Homo sapiens: one gene and its partners. The protein of the gene in region 4 purifies or fractionates together with the protein of the main gene of each other region. This does not show direct contact. Each region holds a gene or a part of one and is shown on either strand. Other genes may lie near its edges.

The links. The genes of interacting proteins can lie anywhere in the genome.
Region 1: the proteins of TMEM98 (region 4) and SOST purify together in Homo sapiens (co-immunoprecipitation; one large-scale study listed by IntAct). This does not show direct contact.
Region 2: the proteins of TMEM98 (region 4) and CD226 purify together in Homo sapiens (co-immunoprecipitation; one large-scale study listed by IntAct). This does not show direct contact.
Region 3: the proteins of TMEM98 (region 4) and BMPR1A purify together in Homo sapiens (affinity purification with mass spectrometry; one large-scale study listed by BioGRID and IntAct). This does not show direct contact.

What each region holds. Positions count from the first base shown.
Region 1 is NC_000017.11:43,753,112-43,756,136, reverse strand, and holds the end of SOST (sclerostin precursor), read left to right. Parts: intron 1-373; coding exon 374-795; 3' UTR 796-2,399; downstream 2,400-3,025. UniProt on the Homo sapiens protein: Negative regulator of bone growth that acts through inhibition of Wnt signaling and bone formation.
Region 2 is NC_000018.10:69,857,248-69,861,218, reverse strand, and holds part of CD226 (CD226 antigen isoform a precursor), read left to right. Parts: 3' UTR 1-3,971.
Region 3 is NC_000010.11:86,759,274-86,763,244, forward strand, and holds part of BMPR1A (bone morphogenetic protein receptor type-1A isoform 3 precursor), read left to right. Parts: intron 1-3,971. UniProt on the Homo sapiens protein: On ligand binding, forms a receptor complex consisting of two type II and two type I transmembrane serine/threonine kinases.
Region 4 is NC_000017.11:32,934,451-32,938,421, forward strand, and holds part of TMEM98 (transmembrane protein 98), read left to right. Parts: intron 1-1,881; coding exon 1,882-1,997; intron 1,998-3,971. UniProt on the Homo sapiens protein: Functions as a negative regulator of MYRF in oligodendrocyte differentiation and myelination. Interacts with the C-terminal of MYRF inhibiting MYRF self-cleavage and N-fragment nuclear translocation.

The DNA.
Region 1 (3,025 bases), about 11 Mb from region 4:
TTCAGCTATATGTGCCAAATGGTATTTTCTGCATTGCGTGTGTAATGGATTAACTCGCAATGCTTGGGGCGGCCCATTTTGCAGACAGGAAGAAGAGAGAGGTTAAGGAACTTGCCCAAGATGACACCTGCAGTGAGCGATGGAGCCCTGGTGTTTGAACCCCAGCAGTCATTTGGCTCCGAGGGGACAGGGTGCGCAGGAGAGCTTTCCACCAGCTCTAGAGCATCTGGGACCTTCCTGCAATAGATGTTCAGGGGCAAAAGCCTCTGGAGACAGGCTTGGCAAAAGCAGGGCTGGGGTGGAGAGAGACGGGCCGGTCCAGGGCAGGGGTGGCCAGGCGGGCGGCCACCCTCACGCGCGCCTCTCTCCACAGACGTGTCCGAGTACAGCTGCCGCGAGCTGCACTTCACCCGCTACGTGACCGATGGGCCGTGCCGCAGCGCCAAGCCGGTCACCGAGCTGGTGTGCTCCGGCCAGTGCGGCCCGGCGCGCCTGCTGCCCAACGCCATCGGCCGCGGCAAGTGGTGGCGACCTAGTGGGCCCGACTTCCGCTGCATCCCCGACCGCTACCGCGCGCAGCGCGTGCAGCTGCTGTGTCCCGGTGGTGAGGCGCCGCGCGCGCGCAAGGTGCGCCTGGTGGCCTCGTGCAAGTGCAAGCGCCTCACCCGCTTCCACAACCAGTCGGAGCTCAAGGACTTCGGGACCGAGGCCGCTCGGCCGCAGAAGGGCCGGAAGCCGCGGCCCCGCGCCCGGAGCGCCAAAGCCAACCAGGCCGAGCTGGAGAACGCCTACTAGAGCCCGCCCGCGCCCCTCCCCACCGGCGGGCGCCCCGGCCCTGAACCCGCGCCCCACATTTCTGTCCTCTGCGCGTGGTTTGATTGTTTATATTTCATTGTAAATGCCTGCAACCCAGGGCAGGGGGCTGAGACCTTCCAGGCCCTGAGGAATCCCGGGCGCCGGCAAGGCCCCCCTCAGCCCGCCAGCTGAGGGGTCCCACGGGGCAGGGGAGGGAATTGAGAGTCACAGACACTGAGCCACGCAGCCCCGCCTCTGGGGCCGCCTACCTTTGCTGGTCCCACTTCAGAGGAGGCAGAAATGGAAGCATTTTCACCGCCCTGGGGTTTTAAGGGAGCGGTGTGGGAGTGGGAAAGTCCAGGGACTGGTTAAGAAAGTTGGATAAGATTCCCCCTTGCACCTCGCTGCCCATCAGAAAGCCTGAGGCGTGCCCAGAGCACAAGACTGGGGGCAACTGTAGATGTGGTTTCTAGTCCTGGCTCTGCCACTAACTTGCTGTGTAACCTTGAACTACACAATTCTCCTTCGGGACCTCAATTTCCACTTTGTAAAATGAGGGTGGAGGTGGGAATAGGATCTCGAGGAGACTATTGGCATATGATTCCAAGGACTCCAGTGCCTTTTGAATGGGCAGAGGTGAGAGAGAGAGAGAGAAAGAGAGAGAATGAATGCAGTTGCATTGATTCAGTGCCAAGGTCACTTCCAGAATTCAGAGTTGTGATGCTCTCTTCTGACAGCCAAAGATGAAAAACAAACAGAAAAAAAAAAGTAAAGAGTCTATTTATGGCTGACATATTTACGGCTGACAAACTCCTGGAAGAAGCTATGCTGCTTCCCAGCCTGGCTTCCCCGGATGTTTGGCTACCTCCACCCCTCCATCTCAAAGAAATAACATCATCCATTGGGGTAGAAAAGGAGAGGGTCCGAGGGTGGTGGGAGGGATAGAAATCACATCCGCCCCAACTTCCCAAAGAGCAGCATCCCTCCCCCGACCCATAGCCATGTTTTAAAGTCACCTTCCGAAGAGAAGTGAAAGGTTCAAGGACACTGGCCTTGCAGGCCCGAGGGAGCAGCCATCACAAACTCACAGACCAGCACATCCCTTTTGAGACACCGCCTTCTGCCCACCACTCACGGACACATTTCTGCCTAGAAAACAGCTTCTTACTGCTCTTACATGTGATGGCATATCTTACACTAAAAGAATATTATTGGGGGAAAAACTACAAGTGCTGTACATATGCTGAGAAACTGCAGAGCATAATACTGCCACCCAAAAATCTTTTTGAAAATCATTTCCAGACAACCTCTTACTTTCTGTGTAGTTTTTAATTGTTAAAAAAAAAAAGTTTTAAACAGAAGCACATGACATATGAAAGCCTGCAGGACTGGTCGTTTTTTTGGCAATTCTTCCACGTGGGACTTGTCCACAAGAATGAAAGTAGTGGTTTTTAAAGAGTTAAGTTACATATTTATTTTCTCACTTAAGTTATTTATGCAAAAGTTTTTCTTGTAGAGAATGACAATGTTAATATTGCTTTATGAATTAACAGTCTGTTCTTCCAGAGTCCAGAGACATTGTTAATAAAGACAATGAATCATGACCGAAAGGATGTGGTCTCATTTTGTCAACCACACATGACGTCATTTCTGTCAAAGTTGACACCCTTCTCTTGGTCACTAGAGCTCCAACCTTGGACACACCTTTGACTGCTCTCTGGTGGCCCTTGTGGCAATTATGTCTTCCTTTGAAAAGTCATGTTTATCCCTTCCTTTCCAAACCCAGACCGCATTTCTTCACCCAGGGCATGGTAATAACCTCAGCCTTGTATCCTTTTAGCAGCCTCCCCTCCATGCTGGCTTCCAAAATGCTGTTCTCATTGTATCACTCCCCTGCTCAAAAGCCTTCCATAGCTCCCCCTTGCCCAGGATCAAGTGCAGTTTCCCTATCTGACATGGGAGGCCTTCTCTGCTTGACTCCCACCTCCCACTCCACCAAGCTTCCTACTGACTCCAAATGGTCATGCAGATCCCTGCTTCCTTAGTTTGCCATCCACACTTAGCACCCCCAATAACTAATCCTCTTTCTTTAGGATTCACATTACTTGTCATCTCTTCCCCTAACCTTCCAGAGATGTTCCAATCTCCCATGATCCCTCTCTCCTCTGAGGTTCCAGCCCCTTTTGTCTACACCACTACTTTGGTTCCTAATTCTGTTTTCCATTTGACA
Region 2 (3,971 bases), on a different chromosome or scaffold from region 4:
TTTTTAGTAAAAACTCCAATTTATGTTTTAAGTAATTCAGTGTATTACTAAAATACTATATATATAAACTTAAAATACATGGGTTATCAATTTAAAAGACAAAGTAAGTAAAAATACTTTTAGTAGGCATTCGTGGATTGTGAACATCCAAGTTATATTGGTTTGTATAGAATGGCATTAAGTAAAAATTACAGCTGTATAACAGTAGTTTTCTAAATTGAGAGAGTCCACATTGTAATTAGAGATCACTGTGACCAAAATGCTTCTCCTTGATTTATAATGATGTACTGTATTTTGTACTGCTTATATGAAATTTCAGCAAGATTGACGATATTATAAAGATGCTTATAAAGTGTAAGTGGAGACGCTAAATTGTGAGTACAAAGTTTCTTTTTCACAACAGTGATAAGAAAATATCTTTAAAAAATATAAGACAATATAAACATGTCATCATTAGTTTAGCTACTATTAAAATGTAACATCTAGAAAGTACTGATCTCCACCTTCAGACTTCTGTATAAGTATATTTTTTCACTGATCTGTTCATTAGAGTTCTTCCAGCCAAGACTCTGGGCTCTTAAAACATGTATCTGAAAACTAAAAACAAGTTAATTTTTTTAAAAGCTTCTCTATTTCTAGTGATTCAATAGGTAGAAAAATAGCTTCTAGAATTAACTGCAATGCTTTCTAAGGAAATTTTATAAATCCTCAAGGTCGGTTTACACATATTTTTCCAGATTCAGAGCACTAACTATCTTGTAAGATGTAAGAAAAGGTCCATTTGGAAGTATGAGTAATAAATGTCTGGGATAATTCTGGTTTATTTCGTATTATCCTTGTTAGAATAAGTTATATGGTCAACCTGTTCAGAACACTTTTTCTAGTGTTAGTGTGTACTTTTGGATTTTTGGTTCTTGTAGGGTATAGAAATATTTTCCTTTGTCTTGTATTCTGTTGTTTTGAATGAATAAAACACAATGTTTCACGATCACTACTTTCATTTGCCATGGAGAAATAGCAGGGAAAAATTTCTACAGAATAAAATTAACTGATGAATTACATGCAGAAAAAATTCAAATCAATGATACATTGTAATTTTTATCTCAATGCAATGTTCTTTGTATTTTATTTTATTATTATTTTTTTGAGACGGAGTTTCACTTTTGTTGCCCGGGCTGGAGTGCAATGGCACAATCTCGGCTCACCACAACCTCTGCCTCCCGGATTCAAGTGATTCTCCTGCCTCAGCCTCCTGAATAGCTGGGATTACAGGCATATGCCAACATGCCTGGCTAATTTTGTATTTTTAGTGGAGACGGGGTTTCTCCACGTTGGTCAGACTTGTCTTGAACTCTGGACCTCAGGTGATCCACCTGCCTCAGCCTCCTAAATTGCTGGGATTACAGGCATGAGCGACCACTCCTGGCCTTGTTCTTTGTATTTTATAAGTGCATGTAGTGCAAAGGGTCAAAGGGCTTTACAGGTTTTTTGTTTGTTTGTTTTTGTTTTTCCCGAAACATAGTAGTCCCTTGCCCTTCCTCATTTTTGTTACCTTGAGACAACAAATTTTACTACTTCTAACTCATTATTTTATTTATGTTCACTTTTCTGAATAGCATGCTTATGACACTAATACTTTTTTTTTCAATTTTAGACATTCATTATTCATTTAGATGTCTTTCTCTCCCCAAACTCACCACATAAAATACTCTTCTCATGTCTCTTTCAGAAATATTTGTATTAAAATATGATTATATCAATATTTGGCATTTATTTCTTATGACCTTGCCAGTACTCTTAGTTAAACTACATGGTAAAAATGATTTTGCTTTCCCTCCTACATAACTTTTTTTCCACCTAGAGCTAATAATTGTCATTCTGGGGACTGACTTTTTCTGTATTTACCATAAATTGACCTGAAACTCCCCTGTGATGCAGCAGGAATTCTACCAACGTCAACTTCCTTAGAAAGACTCCATTAGAAGCTTGACTTGGGGCTAGAAGGAGAGGCACACAACTGCCATCCTGGTGTCTCCCTTCATCCAGAAAAAGGGGGAGGAATACATGAAACCTAGAATCCACTCTAAAACATTTTCCAGAACAAAAGGACATGTGTTTCCGTGTTGTAAATGTTTAACGAGTGCCCATAACAAGGAATAATAAGTCTATTATGTTTGCTTTTGTGTCTGTAAAAGTTGGGGGTATTGGTTGTAAGCACGAAAACAGATACTGACTGTTGAAGAAAAAAAAAAATACGAGGTCAGGAGTTTGAGACCAACTTGGCCAATATGGTGAAACCCTGTCTTAGTAAAAATAGAAAAATTAGCCAGGCCTGGTGGCACGCACCTGTAGTCCCAGCTACTTGGGAGGCTGAGGCAGAAGAATCGCTTGAACCCGGGAGGCAGAGGTTGCAGTGAGCCAAGATCGCACCACTGCACTCCACCCTGGGCAACAGAGCGAGACTCCGTCTCAAAAAAAAAAAAAAAAAAAAAAAAAAAAAGTTAAGTATTTGAACATAGGGGTGGCTCATAGAATTCCCAGGACACCCGATGGAGTAGGCTTGCAAAACACAACATGTGGCAACTCCAGTGGGAAACGAGGCAGGAAACACTCGTTTCCTGCAGAAAGCAACAATTTGGGCTTCGATACCCTCCCTAGAACACAGGGCAGTGAATCTGAGCAGCATCAGTACCCCACGTTCGGATGAGTCCTGAGCCCCTATTTTTATTCACTGACTTATTCCAAAATCAGTGTCTCTTAAATATATCTGGAAGGCAGCAGCTTGTATCTCCCCCTTCAGCTTCCATAGTGGCAGTCAGGGTACAACTTACTTTCCAAACAGAACACACTGCGACATTCCCTCCAGGCTCGTTGAAGAACTTCAACTGACAAATGTCCCTCCTCGACCAGATGATAGTTTTCTTAAAGGCAGGGTTTAATATACCCTTTTATAAATGTTTCAAGGCCCTGTGTAATACCTGAGTTTATTCCAGATGTAACTAAATATATCCAAGATTGTTTTAAAATAAATTGCTGAAAAAACAAATAAATACAGTTAGTATCTATATCAATATTCTCAGTTGGCAGTTTTGCAATAATGGCCGATAGTTCATTTTTAGTAACACTATTGACATTGCATTTGGATATTAGGGTTTACTAATCATCCGCATGTATACATTGCATATTTTTCTAGACTTTAACTTTATTCAAATCTATTGATTTTTAAACCTGCAACTTATGTCTAGACACAGGTATACCTTTACAAGAACTACCATTTTTTTTGGTAACATACTACCTCCAAAATTTCAAGTAAGAAGTTGATTTTTGTCCATTTTTAAATGGAAAACTTGTAATCAAAATGCCACAAAATTATACTGTGTATCATTTGACCTATAGAAACCAATATTATTACAGGAAGAAAGCAGAGCCAATCTTCTACCTGTGGTCAAATAAGTGGAGGCCCTTTCTAGACTAAGTTCTCATGAGTTTAAAATACCAAGCATAAGTTCTCCAAATTCCTGAAAAGGAAGCCTTGTGTTGTATTGCCCAGCCATATTTGTAAGACATAAAAATAAAACTTGAGAAGAAGCTATGATAACTTACTTTCTTCATTCTTCAAAATTTACATAATCTCAACTGATTTTATGTTTTTATGAAAATGCATTCTTAAGATATATCCTTATTCAATCATGTATTCATTACATCCTTTATGCCAGGTATCCAAAAGTACTTACAGTGACTAAGACCATTATTCTTTGATCAGCTGCCTGAGTAAGACTTTGAGCTCTCCAATATACTCTCAGTGATACTAAGTTTTCTGAGTAACAGCTTTGGATGTGGCTTCAGTTGAGCTGATTTATCCCACACTTTATTTTTATCGTATAATGGTCCTCAGAAGCAAATTTTGATTTTAGCTCACATAAAAAATGTACAAAGAAATGTAATGGCTCAGTAGCTTCTAGAGATAGAGA
Region 3 (3,971 bases), on a different chromosome or scaffold from region 4:
ATATGCGTTCTCCAAGTTTCACTTTTCAGATCACTTTTCTCTATGTCTCTAGTCCCTTAGAATGATTGTTCAGACCTTTCTGTTGGAATAATTCTCAATTCTTTGTTTATGTGTCTTCTGAATCACGTTTTTTTGTTTGTTTGTTTTGTTTTTTCTTTTTTATTCAGTTGCTTTCTACATATCTGTACCTGATTGTTCTGAGCTGCTTTTCCTTAGCAAACTTGCCTCTTTGGTGTTCTTTATTTTTGTTGATGTCATACCAAACCCAAACCTTTTCCCATTTCATCATATCTTGTCTGTAGCCAACATCTGTTGATTCTGCTTTATGATATTGTAACTCTTCTGCTCTCTATTCTTGCTAACTGTGGGGCAATTCTGAATTCATATTGGTGTGAAGGTAGTAGTCAAATCATAAAACGAGTTGGGCAGCTTTCCTTCTTTTTCTCTTTTTCAGGATCATTTTAGACTGGGATTATCTGTTCCTTGAAAGTTTGGAAGACCTCCCCTATGTGACCATTTAGGCCTAGATCTTTTTTCTGGAGAGGACTTTGAGTAACACTTCAATTTCTTTAATAGCTGTTGGTTTGTGTCGATTTTCTGATTCTCATATGAATTTTAATGTTTCACATTTTTTTCAGGAATTTATTTTCAAATCTAGTGTTATTTGGCTTTCACGTAGTTCTCCCCCCACCACCCCGCGACTCCACCCCCACCCCCTAACTCTAAATCAAGTTCTCATCCCACCTGGACTAATGTTATGATTTTCTTGCCTTCACTTTTCTCCTTTATCTAATCTTATGTATTTCTGCCTAAATTAATCTGTAAGCCCAGTTCTTACCACTTCGCCACTCAGAAGTTTCCTAGGTCTTCCATTAAATGAAATATTTTCTGTGGTATTTGCCTCAGATTTACCTGTTTTTTTTTTTTTTTTTTTTTAATACCTTATTGTTTTTTCTTTCTTTCTTTCTTTCTTTCTTTTTTTTTTTTTTTTTTTTTTTGATACAGAGTCTCGCACTGTCGCCTGGGCTGGAGTGCAATGGCGTGAGCTCAGCTCATTGCAACCTCTGCCTCCTGGGTTCAAGGGATTCTCCTGCCTCAGCCTCCCAGGTAGCTGGGACCACGCCTGGCTAATTTTTGTATTTTTAGTAGAGGTGGGGTTTTGCCATGTTGGCCAGGCTGGTCTTAAACTCCTGACCTCAGTTGATCCGCTCGCCTCAGCCTCCCTGTGCTGGGGTTACACAGGTGAGGCACTGTGGCTGGCCTTTATAGCAGTTTTTATACAAATATTAGTTTCACTACTAGTTTGCAGGGTGGGTCTGTAACGGACTTTTCTTGCATATTAAAAGGAATAAATGGGGAAAGGCTCCTGTCTAGCCTAACAGTAGCTGTTGAACTGTCCTGATCTGACTATTGGATCTTAGGAGCAGCGAACCATGGAGAGAAAGGAAAATGGGTTTCCTATCACACTAAATTTTGAAGTAGGAACCATTTCTTTTCCTTTTCTACTTTCCCACCTTTTACTAGTTTTTAGGCTTTAGGATGTCTTTTTAACATCACAAGGTCCATATTGACCAAGTTGGACCAACTTTTTAACACAAGATTAAATGTTGACTTGCATTGAGTTATGTCCATTGTAAGATACACAGTAGTGTTACAGACCACTTAAAATATGCTTCTAGTTGTAAGAAGCCATTGATTGTAAGGTGCACCCCAATTCCGGAGATGCTAAAATATGAAAAATGGATGCATCTTAGAATTGATGAATAGTGTTTCTCTCCCTAATCAAAGCTCTTGGATGTGCCTGGAAATCCCCAGTAGTGTTTTTTGAAAAGAACACTAGTTAGGGGCATAGGGAGATCAGATGATCAGTAGACTCCATCTCAGGGTGGCCCCTGTGGTCCCTAAGCCAGTTCGTATGGGCAGTTTAATATATAACTAATGAGTAGACATTGAATAGATGAGTAAATTATCTTTGAGTATCTTTTATTTACTCTGATGTTGTAGACTTTGTTACTCTTTTATAGTTTTATATTTCTGATGAGCCTTCCTTTCTTATGGCACAGATTTGTTATACTGTTAAAGTCTGGAACAGTGGAGCTTGGCTCTTGATCCAGCTGTATATAATTGGCTGTTGACTTATGAAGGAGGACAGGAGTATGCTAGAGATAGGGATAAAATATTATAATCACATTTGCAGTTAGGGAGATTAGTTACATGTTGGAAAATCATTTTGAAGAAAGGAAGACTGAAGATGTTCAAACTTGTAGGAAGGTCTTTCTGGCCTAGCCCGGATTAAACCCATTTATGCCTAGTGTTCCACTATTGGAACGCTAAGCACGTGGGAGTTATTTATATCCTGCTCAAGGTCATCACCAAGGTCTGATTGCAAAAATTCAAAAAATTGCAGCCTCAGGCATAAATGGGTTAAGATGGTGGCAGATAATTAGGGCCTGGAATGGATAGGAGGCGATAACTAGCGTGGATGAGAGAAGGAATGGGATTGGCAAGAACAACTCCTGGATTTCTAGCTTGGAAAGCAGGGTAGATGTGGGTGACAGATATGAAAAATGAGGTGGGAGAGCTGGTTTGTAGAAGAAAATAGTATTGGATCACATGGAGTTTGAGATATCTGAAACAGCCAAGTAGGGATTTCCACTTGGCAGTTGTCTATATGGGTCTGGGGTTTGACAGAGGTTTGTGCTGGAGGTAGGCATTTGGGAGTCATTGCTGTATAGATTTTATATTCCAACAGTGGGAATTGGGTGGCTCTCTCAAGTGACTCTTGCTTACAAGTGACAGCCCTAACTCAAGTTAGCTTAAAGGAGGGAAAAGCTTCTCCCCACTAACCCCCATGATATTGAAAGGTCTAGAAATAGACATGGCTGGACCTAAGTGCTCAAATGATATAATTAATTGAGGTTGTCTTTTCTGTTCTTCACTTTTGTGGTCTCATTTCAGGCAGGTGCATATATCTGGCAGAGGAAGACATAGGTTATAGGTTATAGAATTACAGGTTATAGGTTATAGACCTCGTATCGAGAACTCCTTGTATGGTCTAGCAAAGAGCCTAAAACAGCATTGAGAATTTTTTTTCTTTCTTTTTGAGACGGAGTCTTGCTATGTTTCCCAGGCTGGAGTGCAGTGGTGCGATCTGGGCTCACTGCAACCTCCGCCTCCTGGGTTCAAGTGATTATCCTGGCTCAGCTTCCCGAGTAGCTGGGTTTAACAGGCGCCCGCCAATACGCCTGGCTCCTTTTTGTATTTTTAGTAGAGACAGGGTTTTGCCTCGTGGGCCAGGCTGGTCTCAACTCCTGACCTCAGGTGATCCTTCCGCCTTGGCCTCCCAAAGTTCTGGGATTACAGGTGTGAGCCACTGCGCCTGGCCAGTCTTGAGAAATTTCAACTTAAGGCCTGGGTAGAGAAGATAGACATTAAATAATTATCTAGTTGTAGTTATGTTAAGATCTACAAAAAGGAAGTCCAGGGAATGTTACAAGACTGATAAGGGAAGCTGGGCTGTTCAGGATGCGGGTACTTTGGAAGGCTTTCCTGAGAAAGGTAGCCCGCAGAGTGAGACCTTAGGCAAGAAAGGACAAGGAGACTGTTTTTGGAAGTATTCAGTAGTATTTATTTATTTATTTGAGACGGAGTCTCACTCTGTCGCCCAGGCTGGAGTGCAGTGGCGTGATCTTGGCTCACTGCAACCTCTACCTCCCGGGTTAAGCGATTCTCATGCCTCAGCCTCCCAAGTAGTTGGGGTCACAAGCGTGAGCCACCACGCCTGGCTAATTTTTGTATTTTTAGTAGAGACGGGGTTTCGCTGTGTTGGTCAGGCTGATCTCGAACTCCTGACCTCGTGATCCGCCCACCTCGGCCTCCCAAAGTGCTGGGATTACAGGCATGAGCCACTGCGCCCGGCCAGAAGTATTCGGTAAAGTGAGCAGTTTTTGCAGCTTTTTAAAAATTTTAAA
Region 4 (3,971 bases):
CTTGGAATTTTTGTGGTTTACTTCCCCCCCTGCCTGGACTGGCTGTTCACAGAATCTCAAGGCTGTTTCAAAGGCTTTATTTCATCTGGTCGTCTTAATTCAATGACCTGTGGGAAAGACAGCCTAGGTACACAGCCACCATTTCACTCCTCTTGGAGAAAGCTGTGTATTCCTGAGACCGTGTAGCTGCCAAGAGAAATGGGGTTTCCCTGCTTCCCCCTGCACACTCATTTTCACTAACAGAGAGTTCAGGCCTGTATGGTGAGTTTCTTTCTGTATTTGGATTTCTACTGTGACTAGAAAGTCATCACTAGCCTTCTTTGGCTGTGACCGTAGTCAGCCAAATGGGACAATCAGTGTTAAAAAACCAAAGCAGGCATACTTCAATCTGAAGGCAGAGGATTTTTTCTTTGAAAGCCTGGAATCTTTGAAAAATTGCATCCAATTTGCATTTTGGGTAATTTTATGGTTTTAGCATTTGTTTTCAATTCTTGCCTGTTAATATCCTACCTAATAGAATAATAACTATACTGAAATATTTGGCCAGTTGCAAATATCAGGGTTTTTTTTTTTACATCAGTAACCTGGGTAATCACACATTTATCTCTTTGACTAGTAATTATTCAAGATTTCAAAAGAGACAACTTTGTCTTTTCTTTAGTGTCATTCAGTAGAAGACACTATTAATAAAACATTCTTTACCCCACCTCTTCTTTGGCTGTCTCTCTCAGGGGATGGATAAATGCCTAGTAGGAAGTTATTATCTCAGAGTCCAGGCTTAGTTAATTCTGAGAGGCTCTTTGGATATACAAATATGGCTATAGATATAAATATGGTTATTGATAGAGCTAGGTAGGCATAATGGCTAGAAGATAATACTATACTACATTTCCCTTCTCCTGGCCAAGATGTGTCCTGGGCCTGGGTTTTGTCTCCTGTCCTCATCTATTAGGAGGATAAATGGCACCTGTGGTGTGAGATGAATCAGCTGGAGGGAGTCATATTGAATTGGAATCTGTGTCTACCCGGCGAACCTCTGATCAAAGGAGAGGGCTTCTAAGTCTCCTCTTGGGATCTTAAGACTCTTTTGCTAGGTCACCTGCCCTTGAGTCTCTGTGGTGGGAGCTGGGAGAGGGGTCTGGGCTAACTCCCAGGTGGACCTTTGGGCTTCTTTCTGCCCTCTACTGTCCAGCTCCAAGTATAGGTCAGGTAGGGGTGCTTCCTTGCCATGGATAGAGGCGCACCCATGTTGGTTGGTTCTAGCATGGGGTGGCCTGGAAAGGGGAAGCAAGCTCTGGGGTGGCCAGCTCTGTGGGTGGGACCACGAAGAAGGCTGTAGTCAGTCTTGCCTTTTCCCTGCTTTTCCTAAGGTCCTTTCATCATCAGCTTGATAAACATGCTAATATATTACCTGAGACAATTGTTGAAATAAGTGCTGTTATTGGAGCATGTGCTTAAAGGGAACAATTGCCCTTTGTTCAGCCCCATTCCTGAGGGTGCCTTGTTGGAGATATTTATTCTTGTGGAAGACTAAACCATGAGATGAAGGAATAGAAAAAGAAAGTAGGTTTTTCCCCTAAGTGAGAAGGTGAAATTGGAGCACATGATTTTTCTTAAGACAGATTATTTCAGCTTAGGCTTCCCAGAGCCCACACCCTGCCCTTGATCTGCGGCTCCCACCCCAGGTCCTCTCCCAGCCATGCCCTTGGCTTTTGCCACTTCCCACCCGTTTCCTCTCATCTCTGTACTTTTCACATCTGGCCATTAGGTTGGGGGCCAGCTGCGATGGAACTCACGGCAGGGCTGATTTGTCTCGTGGGGGTGGCGAGGCCCTGAGTGGAGCCAGGTCAGCCCTCATCTCTCTCCTCCCTGCCGCATTAGATTTGTCACACTCTGACAGAGAAGCTTGTTGCCATGACAATGGGCTCTGGGGCCAAGATGAAGACTTCAGCCAGTGTCAGCGACATCATTGTGGTGGCCAAGCGGATCAGCCCCAGGTGAGCAATTGGCGGCTTCGAGGTCCCCACACTCCCTGAGGGAAGAGAGGGGCTGGAAGCTGGGGTAGCCGCAGAGCTGGGCTCTTCTATAAAATGGTGCACAGGCAACTTCAGCTATTTGTTTCCCACACATTTACAGAGTGACCAGGAGGGTTTAGATACCGAGACTTCTCAGCTAAGGTGGGCTTCCACCATCCCCACCTGCAGCATGACCCATCTGAGAGGGCTTTGGGGAAGCGCCAGCAGGTGCCTAGTCCTGACCCTGTCCTAGACCCTGCCCTGCAGAGCCCGTGGCCGCCCCTCTTACCCAGCCACATACCAGCTCCCCTTGACACGCCTTCCTCCCAGGCCAACATGTCACACAGATGCCCACACCCCTGTCTCTGCCTGAATCTGTGTTGGAGACTAGCTTGGGGGACCCACTCTGGCTGTGCCCACTGCTCCATCCCTGGCCCAGGCCAGCAGCCTCCAGCACTGGGTGGGAGCTGAAGCCATATGGCATTCAACCTCCCAGATTCCAGGCTAACTGCGAAATCCCGTGTGGGAGGCAACCAGCAGGATTGCAGTCAACAGCTACACCCCCTCATTTGGGCTTGATATCGTGAGGAAAAATAAAGCCCTTTTCTTAGAGCCAAGGGCTGTACTAAGTTTGTGCTGCCACCTGGTGGCTGGTATGCCGACGTGCCTGAGCAGAGGGTCGGGGCCAGGATGTTTTCCACGTCAGCCACCTGGCCCCTCCGCCCACCCGGGAGGGCACCTCTGTATGCCTGCTGAAACAATGGCACTGCTGTGAGTTCCAGGGGCCCACACGTTCCTTGTTGCCATGGCCCCAGGTAAATCACGAGGAACCAGCCCTTTCTCTGCCTCAAGATTAACCAAATAAAAACGACCAGTTTCCTGAGTTGCCACGTGAGTTCCTCTGAGGGAATACACGACCTGGTCAGCTTGAACTCAGTCCAGGCAGTTCAGTGAGTTGAGAGAGTGGGAGGGAGATAATCCAGGGAGGGACTCAGCTGAGAACAGTTCCCTGCCTTCTCTGGAATTGCCTCCAGTGGGCTGTAGCCACATGGTCAGCCCCTGGCTTTATAAGAACCCACATCCCAGGCTCTGGGTGGGCACTGGGCATTCCTTCCCCATTATTTTATTTATTTATTTATTTTTGAGATGGAATCTTGCTCTGTCACCCAGGCTGGAGTGCGGTGGTGCGATCTTGGCTCACTACAACCCCCACCTACCGGGTTCAAGCGATTCTCCTGCCTCAGCCCCCTGAGTAGCTGTGATTACAGGTGCCTGCTACCATGTCTGGCTAATTTTTGTATTTTTAGTAGAGATGGGGTTTCACCATGTTGGCCAGGCTGATCTCAAACTCCTGACCTCAGGTGATCCTCCTGCCTCAGCCTCCCACAGTGCTGGGATTATAGGTGTGAGCCACCACACCCGGCCTCCTTCCCCATTAGTTTTAAAGATTCTGCACTATGGTATTCACTAGACCCTTTGTCATGCTTTTTGTGCCTTCTAAGAGCCACTTAGAGGCCAGGCAGATTCCTGTGATACAGGTTACAAGGCAGCACTTTCAGGAGGTTGAGGTTTCTGTGTGAGCCTGGGTGAGTAGGATCAGCACGGGTCCTAAGATGAGGGTGTGGCATTGTCCAGAGAGTGGACCTGTTCTGGTGCTCACAGGCCCATCCTAAAGAGTACCTTGGACTACTTCTAGAATGCTCCGTGCCATAATTCAGCCAGGGTCCTGCTTTGTCCTTTTGCCCTCACACTTCTTTCTCCTTCTGGCCATGTTTTGTCCCCATTGTTTTTCCTGCTCCATTTATCCCACACAGTGTGTTGATGGCCTGTGAGTCTCGAGGAGGTGGCTTCAGCTCCAGGGCACTAGAGAAAGGAGCTGGCTGAGATAGGCGCGGAGGGTGACTGTGTCTCTGCATGTCCTCACCGGCTCCACAGCCGTGAATAAGAGTGTTTGAG